2 separate regions of the Homo sapiens genome follow, and region 1 is linked to region 2. A link means that fine-mapping ties the variant in region 2 to the expression of a gene that starts in the linked region. Tissue or cell type: whole blood. Region 2 holds a variant in brackets; the other region holds the start of a gene. All regions are shown on one strand. Distances are between the middles of the regions.

Region 1 (5,149 bases), 92 kb before region 2:
CTCTGCACCAAACCCAAGTGCTTCTTCTCCACTGCCAGGATCAGGGGAGTCTTCCCTCTTTCTCCCCTCACATTGACATCAGCCCCATGGTCCAGCAGCAGATGCGTAATAGCCTCCACATCACTATCGTCAGAGCTCAGGAGAGCATGGATCAAGGCATTTCTGCCCATATTGTCACAGGCGTTTACATCTGCCCCCATCTCATCAAGGAGAATCTTCAAGACCTCTACGTGTCCTTTTTCAGCAGCGTCCATGAGAGCTGTGGCCCCTCCTTTCCTCAGCCGCTCTTGATCCTCCTTTGTCTTTCGCCTCAAATTCACATTTGCTCCTCTCTTATAAAGGAATTTTAGGGCTTTGACCTTACCATACACAGCGGCTTCCATGAAGGCTGTGAAGCCATAAAAATCACACTCATTGACATCTGCTCCTTTAGAAAGGAAAAGTTTCAGCAGCTTCACGCTCCCCGCAATCGCTGCGAGGATAAAAGGCGTGGCCCCATTCTTCTTCCTCAGAACAGGGTCAGCACCATGACGAAGCAGAAGTTCCACAATGTCCTCCCTGCTCATTTGTACTGCGTTATGCAGAGGTGTCCAGCCCCCTTCCTCTTCCTGGAAATTAACATTGGCTCCACCTTCCAGCAATTGCTGGACCAGGTCAACATCTTCGTTTTGAACAGCTTTAATCAGCAAGTGATTGTCTTCCACTGCAGCCCTTCTACCGCTGGAGGACGTGGGTCCCTCCTGGGGGTTGTTATGATCCCTGCTCTCCATGACGGTAAATGCCACCTGCTACCACTTTTAGCCTTTTCCTTGAGAAAATGCAAATTTATCTCCTAGCACTTAATCAAAGAAGCTTTGAGTGTAAATTGGGATTCTCTGGCAACAGAGCAGCAGTATGAAGAAGGAACAATGTTCTCAGTCTTCTGACATTCCACCTGGCAACGAAGAGAGGTGCTTTGTAATTTTACAATAGGGAGAAAACACTTGAATCAGAGAAATTAATTATATTAGCATTTTTTCTAAATACATATATTTATTTCTTATAAAACTTTTAAATTACAGAATATTATAAATATATGTAAATTCAAAATAAGAAAATTATTTCTCTAGTCCCAATGCCCAGAAACAGCCAATGTTAATATTTTAGTGTATTTCTATATATTTTTTAAGACATTTGGAATTATACTCTGTAAGTAACTGTATCCTACTTCCTTTCATTTAATACCATACTATAAGTCATTTCCTGTGTTATTGCAAAGTCTTGTAAAACATTTTTCATGACTATGTAATATGAAATCATACAGTTGTTTCATTTCTCTATTACTGAGTGGTTTTCAAAAATAAGTTTTAAAGGGTTTTTTAAAATTAAAAATTTAAAAAATCTAAATGATGTTGCAGCAAATTCAGCTTATTTTAGTTTATTTTCTTTCGATAGATCTTATGATAGATTTCATATGATAGACTTCAAAGAATTTAATGACTATTCAAAAGATATGATTGTATTTAGGATTCTTAACCTATATTAACAAATTGCTTTCAATGTCATATAAATATATTCTTACCAGAGATAGGTGGCTTCCAAAAAAAAAAAAAAAAGACCATGAAAATATGCACATCAATTATTTATCAATAAAAAAAGAAGAACCCTCATTCAATAAGAAAAATATATTTCTTGGCTTTTTTTCCCTTTGCATTTCTTATGTCACCAGGAAGGTTGATCACTGTGTTTGCTGACTCTGTGCATGTCCTCTTTGTACAACCCTGTGCCCCTATTTAAAGTACAGACAATATCTGACTTATGTTTTTTGACTTTGATTTATGATTTTTTGACTTTGCAGTGGTGGAAAAGCAATAAACATTCAGTAGAAACCACACTTCAAGTACACATACAACCATTCTGTTTTTTATTTCAGCATAGCATTCGATAAATACATGAGACATTTAACACTTTATTATAAAATAAGCTTTGAGCTAGATGATTTTGCCCAACTGTAGCCTAATGTAAGTGTTCTGAGCACATTTAAGGTAAGCTAGGATAAGCTATGACGTTCAGTAGATTAGGTGTATTAAATGTGCTTTTGACCTACAATATTTTCAATTTAGGATGGGTTTATCTGTATGTAACCCCATCATAAGTCAAGGAGTATCTGCAGTAGTGAAAAGAGCTTGTACTCTGACCTTAGGGAGATCTAAGTTTGAGCTTGTGGCTGTGTAATTTTTTACTATTACTTCCTGTAACCTTGGATTGTTGAATCTCAATTTTCTATTTCCTGAAATGGAGACAAAAATAAATACAGTCATGTGTGTAAAGTACATTAAAGTATGGAGTGTTGCAAATATTAGCCACTCAATGAATGTTAGAGCTAATTATATCCCGTTATGAAAAAATAAATTGCTTAGTGAATTCTATTCTCCCTACACATGTGCATATAGCTACTACACGAATAGGCAACTGGCAGCTATCAATTTCGTCCAACTGTCAATCAGATCTGAGAATTACAGATCCAGTTCAATCATCAGACAGCCCGAAACTGTTACCTGAATATTTAAATAACTGCATCTGCTATAGAATTCACGAAGCAACCCTTTTTCAGCAATCTCACCACTCTGACAGTTTCAAAGCCTCAGAGGTTAATTGATTAGCCTCTTAGAAGTTTAATTAATTGTGCAACACATACACGATCACCAGGCAATGAAATCTTTGAACCAAAGTGTTTGTGTAGACCGTCCCCATTACAATCAGATGTGAGGTGGGCTGGTATAAACAAAGGAGCCGGGAAGGAGAGGAAATATCAAGGAAGCCCTGAGTGACGCATCAGAGTAGAGAAGAGACGAGCCTGCGGAAGTACTCCAACAGACAATCCTGCTTTCAATTTCACTTTCTCTGTGCGACCTGAGTAAGTCGCAAAGAGATGCCTGAGAAACTGAGGACATGGATAAATGACGTGTGGACTCTGACAGAACTCTGGAAGGGCACTGGAGGAAGATCCTTCCGGGCAGCCAAGGGCTGGGAGCTCCCCTCCCACTTCCCAAGTCCTCCAGCCCCTGGCCTCTCCAGTCTCCAAAGCCCAAGAATTCTTCAGGATCGACTTATCGAGGTTTTCTAGCTTTCCTCCTTCTGCCTGCCTTACCTGCTCAACTCAGACGTCTCAATTATTCCTTTGGCAGCCGCAAAGCCTGGAAGACTGCTTGCAGCCCGAGCAGTTTCCTCCTGCTGCGTCACTGAGTCAGCAGGGCGGAGCCAAGAAAGGAGTGAGGAGTGTGGGAGGGAAAGCAGCCACAGGCTCACTCTGGCACCAGGAGCAAAGCTTCTACTTGCACACCTTCTGGAGGAAAGCAATAGCCACTTTCTGTCTGCTGATGAGGAATGTGATGCCCGGGGTCATGTCACTCACCTCTCAGTCTTGCAGCCTTTCAGGTGGCAGCAGCCAACTGCATCCATCACTCTTGCATCCTTTCTTTGTCATTGCAAATTCTGGTCTTCTTGGAAGAAAGGAATGGAAAGTAAACACATATTGAGCACCTATTGTGTTCCAGACACAATGCTTTACATGCAGCATGGTCCCAGTTAACCCCTGACAATCTTGTTGATTATGAAACGCAGGCTCATAGAAGCTAAGTAAGCCCAAAGCCCAAGCCCTGTCACCTTTCTCAGCTCACTCAACTCACAGCTCTGAGGCAGTGCGGCCTTCTCAGAAGGGTACCGGACTGGCAGTCTGGAGACCTGATCCTACAGCCAGCTCTGTGGCTGCTTAGCTGAGTGACCTCAGGCATGTGATTTAACCATGTAGGGCCTCAGTTCTCTCCTATAACTTGGTTTTGAAGGTTCCTTTCTGCTCTACAAGTTCTGTTCTTGACTATCTTCCTAGCAATGAGCTGTGTACTGTGTACTTAGTGCTGTAGTGGAAAGTATTTCCATCCCCAAAGAATACCCAGTCTTGCTGGGGAGACAAAGCCCTGGGACTTGTGAACAACAAGTAGTGCATGGTCACTTGACGACCACCTGTGTCACACCATCCAGACCCGGGGCCTCTACCACCCCTTATACACCAGGGATTCCCAGGCCTCGCTCTCTAACCCCAGCCTCTCTGCTGAGCTTTAGACCTACAAATCTTGAATATGTGTCAAATGGAAATACTCATCTTTTCCTAAATCTGCCCCTCCTCCCACTTATTCCATCTCCACAGATGGCACCATCACCCGGAGGCCACCCCTCATCCTCATCCCAACACCAAGTCTCTTGCTTTCATCTACAAAGGGATGACCATTCGAGTCCTTGTCATCATTTATAGCAAGAAATTGATGACTTGCTTCCTAGCCCTTCATCCATTGTTCCACCCTGCATCATTGACCCACCATCATTTTCAGGACAAAGTTCAAAAATCCTTAACCCATTATTCATTTAATTAATACTTGTTGGACAGGCGTGGTGGCTCACACCTGTAATCCCAGCACTTTGGGAGGCCAAGGCAGGCAGATCACCTGAGTTCAGGAGTTCAAGACCAGCCTGGCCAACATGGTGAAACCGCGTCTCTACTAAAAATACAAAAAGTAGCCAGGTGTGGTGTTGTGCACCTGTAATCCCAGCTACTCGGGAGGCTGAGGCAGGAGAATTGCTCGAACCCGGGAGGTGGAGGTTGAAGTGAGCCAACATAGTACCACTACACTCCAGCCTGGATGACAGAGCAAGACTCCGTCTCAAAAAAAAAAAAAAAACTTATTGAGCACTGACTATGTTACCAGTGACTATTCTGCATATCTGGCATAGAATGATTTACCACACCAGTTCCTCACAGAGTTCTTCTAGGAGCTTGCATCTTAATAGGCAGAAATAGATCATAAACAGTTGAAAAACCCAACATATCATGATTTCAGGTTATAATACAGTCCCTGCCTGTCCCTACTCCTCATGGGCATCATCAGTGCTAGCCTCCAGTTCCTTGTCACATTATGTCATATGCTTCTACCTCTATATCTTGACCTATGCTGCCTTGCTACCAGAACTAATGATATTAGTAAGAGTGATGAAAATGTGGATGATTCTGTTAATAATGACAAACATTTACATAGCTCTTTAATATGGTCCAGGAACTGTTCTGAACACTTTATATATGTATTAAATTATTTAATCTTATCCTTATGATGTATAT
Region 2 (5,149 bases):
TTTAGTGCAATTTTGATATTGAGGCTTTTTTAAGAGACCTTATCTTTTAGAGGTATACTCTGAAATATTTATAGTTGAAATGATATGCTATCATGAACAGCTTCAACATCATCTTGGGTGGGAAGCTGGGTGGTAGGTACGTAGGGACTCATTGTTCTGTTCTCTTGACTTGTGTATATTTGAAATTGTGCCTACAATGTGTGGCTTCAGTAAAATAAGCCAACAAAGTACAAGAAAACTGAAATACAGAAGGAGGAGACTATTTGAATGGAACTTGATTTTCTGTACATTTTCCATTGTAAGTTTTTCTCCCCTTGAATAAATCCATTTTAAGAAAAGTCTATTATTTTATGCCTAGGGAGCAGGTGCTAAAATTCACAGAGGTTTAGAGTGGGTATAACTCCTAGACATCACCTACAGAAACTAAACTTTGAAGACTTTGTCCAATGTCACATTTCTTAGAGGCATAGCCAGGACTCCAACTCAGAGTTCCTGGATGGAATCCAGCCACATCCTTTGTTCCCACTGCTGAGCTGCCCATCTATACAGGCAGAATTCAGGGCCATATGTTAACACTGGACAAGGAGAGAAATGATGGCCTGTTTGCTCACCTCCACAGCCCTTCTCTGTTCCTACTATGATCACAGCCTTAAACACTGAACTCAGGTTTTACAAATGACCTTTCCAGTGGCCAACTAGTTTCTGTGAGGGCAGCTGAAGGGCAGGAAGGTAGAGTGGAGAGAGAGAGCTTATGCAACATACACAACTCTTCACACCCTCACAACCTGATCTCCTGTCCCATCAAGATCATCAAGGCCTCAGGTATGAAATACCTGGACCTCTTTTCACTTACTAACAACTCCTACTAATCTATCCATATTACACACACCCTGACCTCCTTCCAGCTGCCCTCAGATGTGTCTATTTAAGGTGAATTCTTCCTCCTGTGGCCTTCCACCTATTCTTTCCCATGGACCCTCCTTTATGAACTCTATCTTTATTTTCTCTTTCTCACATGTTATTCTGCACTTAACAAAAACAATGTTCATCTCTTTTATTTAAAAAAATTCCCCTTGGGAAACACCCTTGGGTGTTTCTCCTTTTATCAGCAAAACTGCTTGAAAGAGTCTCCTCTGCTTCCTCACTTCCTATCCCCTCCTAACCCCTTTGCCATTTGGCTTCCATTCCCACCATTCCCCCGAAACACAGCCTCCATACTGTGAGGTTCAAGTGGAAATGTTCCAGTACTTGTCTTTATGAACCTCTTTGCTGCCTTTGCCATGGTGACCATTCATTTCTTGGATCTCTCTCTTTTGACTTCCCAACATTACACTCCCCTGGCTGCCCTTCCCCTTGGTCTCCTTTGCTGGCTCCTCCTCCTCTGTCCACCCCATAAACACTGGTATTTTCCTTCCTCTCTAATCTTAGCTTCCTGCCTCTCTCACCTTGCATGCTACTTGGGCAATCTCATCCTTGCCCATAGTCCTAACTACATTGGGTATATTGACCATTTCTAAATATTTTTGTCCAACTCTAGCCCCTCTCCCATCATGTAGACACCAATAGCTCCCAATCATGTAGACTCCGATAGTCCTTGGGTTGCTGAACATACCCCTCAGATATCCTACAGGCCTAACAACTGCAAATATATCTAAATAATGGACACATCATATTCCCATCTTTTCTTGGCCCATTTTATCCGCCGCCCTCACCACGCCCACCTCCCACTCCACCCGCACCCCCTACACACACATATAAACCTTGGCTTCCTCTGGAATTGCTGATCTCAGTTTCTGGCACCACCATCTACTGAGTAACTCAAGCCAGAAATAGGAAAGTAATTACAGGCAACTCCCTTTCTCTCATCTCCTGTCGACAACCAATTACCAAATCATACTGATTAAATCTTTCATAGTTTTCAAATCTGTCTCCTCCCCTCCATCCTCGCTACCACTGCTCTGGCTCATGTCCTTACGGTCCTGGTTCACGTCCTCACAGTCTCTGGTCCCCATGAGACAGCCTATTTTCTTAAATTCAGCTCCAATCTGCAGCCATAATCACCTGGTTAGTCACAAACATGACTGCATTTCCTTCTCCTCAAAACCTTTAAGCCCTCCTACTCTAGGGATAAAGTTCCAGCTTAAGAAGGATCCTGATACACAAACACCCCAAGGTCTGGCTACCTTGAGAGTCACCTACCACTTCCCTGGCTTGTCCTTCAGGCCCCAATAACTCTACACTTTCCATAATCATGAGCACATATCACAGGGTTCCATGGCTTTGGGCCTCCTTTATTTCATTTCCTCTGCCCAGAATGTCCTTGATCTGAGTGAGTCCTGCTCATCCTCAAGCTGCACTTCAGGACGACTTCTCCAAAAGCCTCACCTGAACACCCAAGTTCAGGAAATGCCCTCTGTGCTCCTATGGCTTCCAGGCACACTTCTCTATGTCAGCACCTGGCATAGCTAGGTACCTGCAACTCTCTTCTCCTAACCAGATCCTAAGTTCATCAAGGGCAGAAAGCATGG[G/GTTCATTCA]TTCATTCATTCATTCATTCATCTGACTAACATTTAAGTGTCTCCTATGTGCCAAGCAAGGTCCCAGGCATGGGTACATTACATTCCCTATGTACATTGCCTAGGTAAAAAACGTATTTTTCATCTCTACACCTCCAAAATGTAGCACGGTCCCCGGCAACAGGAAAAGGCTCAGTTAATGTATGTTGAGCTGACACGAGCCCCCCAGCAGGTAGGTGAGGAAACTGTGTTTGGTGTAGGATGCTGGCCAACAGAGACAGTGTGGAGTCACAGAGTGGCACAGGCTCCAGGGTCAGCAACAAGGGTTCAAGCTCCAACTCTGCCCCTTTATGGCAGGCTCTCCTTGGCTTAGGACCTTGCCTTCTCATCTCTGAAATCAGAATTACTAAGGCAATGCCCACTTCCTGTGTTACTGCAAGAATTCAGTGAAATATATAAGTAAACATGGGCTGTAAATCACTTAGGCTTATGAAAACATTGAGTCACAGGGAGAACATCAGAGTCCGAGAAGGCAGAAGCCCCACACCCAGTGGGGAGAGGTGTGGAGGCTGCATGGATGGGACAGGAGGGCCAAAGGTGGAGAAGCAGAGGGATGTAGTTTTCAAAGCCATGGAGCTGAGAGGCAAGCATGAAACCCTGTCACAACTGAAATGTGGCTTTCCCTCCTATCGCTCAGTGCCAGGGTGCTGGTTATCAATCTCTTCCCCTTCTCAGATAGTAACAAAAGCTTTACCATTTGCCATCAGAGTCTACAGCTGTGGGCAGAGAGCAGCTTCAGCACTCTCCCCCTTCTCTGAATATAAAATAAGCTCTTTCTAATCCTCCATTTTTAATGACTTCAGGCAATGGCTTTCATGTCCTCACTCCTAGCTCCATTCTAGCCAGACACCTAGAATCACGCAGCAAGGAGAATCCACAGCCATCAGACCCAGGAGTGGGGTTCGGCCACAGCAACAGCAGCAGGGAATAGTGGAGTGGAGTCTGGGACTCTGGGGACAGTTCTCCCACTGGTATTTGCTCCGAAATTCACACAGAACTGGGAACTGAGAGCACTCAGTGAGACGCCTTGCTTGCGGGCATGTGCTGGTGCACGTTAATGTCTGAGCTGGAGGCGGGAGGAGGGACGAGGGCTGTGTGGGTGCACTCCGATGCACGGAGATGCTGAGCAAATTCCCCCTGACACTTTTCCTTGAGAGACAAGGCCCTGGGAGGAATCAACCTTAAGCCACTCAGCTTTTCTGAGACCCTCTTCCTTCTAGAACCTTTTACTGCTGAATTCAAAAGCCTTTGGGAAATTCCATACAGAGAACACTGACCAATTCCATGCAGAGAACACTGGCAAAGGTTCTGATGATGATGCTGATATTTCTTGGACGTGAAAAATACCCCCCAGGCACAGAGGGGAAGCAAGAAAGCATTTCTGACATCTCTAGAAATGTAGGTGTTTGGACAAAGAAGAAACCAGAAAGCATAAAACAGAGAGCCTGGAATAGAATAGACAGGAAAATTGTTCTAAGTCATAAAGTCATTATATTAACAAAACTTACATTTGTATAGCGCAGTCACAAGCTGGGTTGTGCTATACAAATGTGAGTTTTGTTACTTATAATCACAAGTCACAAGTTGGAGCTGGGATTGAGAAAGGAAGATGGAGAACAAAAAGGACATTTGAGGCTTAGCACCTGCTAAGTTGGAAGAACAGGCATATTTCTGCACCCTTGCTCCTGGCAAGAGTGGTGGGCTTAAAGGTTCTGAAGGGTCTGTTAGAGAGTAAATGGGGATGATGATACAAGGACAGGTGCTTTCACTTCTCTGGCTGAACTTCCTCGAGTTTTTTTTACCCCCCTTGAGCCTCAATTTGTTCTAGGAAGTTGGGAGAATTAAACAGCATCATGTGGGCAAGTACCTGGCAAAGTTGTTCAGCACATCTTGACCACTGGGAGCTATCATTCCTTTCAGCTGATCCTCACAAGCTCCTTTGAAAGTGAGCCAGACACTTGTTATCACTCATTTTACAGATGAAGCTGCTCAGTGGCCCTGAGTGGAGGGCCCAGGGTAATTCAATTAATGGCCCTAAGAAGACTTGAACCCAGGACCTCCAGTACTTTTTCCACCCCAACTCTGCCTATTCAGCTCATGCTGCTGCTGACCCATGGCTGAGATCCACACTTGGAGGGTTTTTCTTAACAGAAAGATGAGGGTTTGGCTCAGCTGTCCATCCACACTCTTGCTCTGTCCTCTAAGAGCCCCTTGCTATAGTGGCATGGCTGTTGTGACTAAGGAACCATGTTCTCCAGGTCAGAGTTCACTGACCCACGGGAGAAAGACCTTCACCTAACTGGCATGTTTCATTCACCTGGACAAGAATAAGAGCAAGTTTTCAGATCCCTTTTTGTGTTAGACACTATGTGGAAAAAATCTTTAAACAAAGAAGAAGCTAGAAGGATGTGATACCCAAGGGAGGCTTACCTTGACCTGGCCATGGTGAGATGTGGGCCACACTACACACTCTACTGCCCACTCACTTATCACCTTTCCAGTCTAACACACACTTCTTTCAGGAAACCTGCTCTAAGAATGGGTGGAGAACAAACAGTTAATAAAGACTAGTTTACTGGAGT

The links. PIP is the estimated chance that this variant, and not a neighbour inherited with it, causes the effect.
Region 1: RNASEL starts here. The variant in region 2 is fine-mapped to the expression of RNASEL in whole blood (INTERVAL, PIP 0.98).

Annotation. Positions count from the first base shown.
Region 1 is chr1:182,586,037-182,591,185 of GRCh38, forward strand. RNASEL (ribonuclease L) reads right to left here and starts at 3,220. Exons shown (of 7, transcript NM_021133.4): 1 at 3,131-3,220; 2 at 1-934. The coding sequence starts at 770. RefSeq lists an enhancer at 2,936-3,095.
Region 2 is chr1:182,678,094-182,683,242 of GRCh38, forward strand. The region is part of intron 1 of RGS8 (regulator of G protein signaling 8); the gene reads right to left. Among named protein-coding and RNA genes, the nearest start is that of RGS8, 3.9 kb to the right of the region's middle. The variant G/GTTCATTCA (reference allele first, on the strand shown) is at 2,529.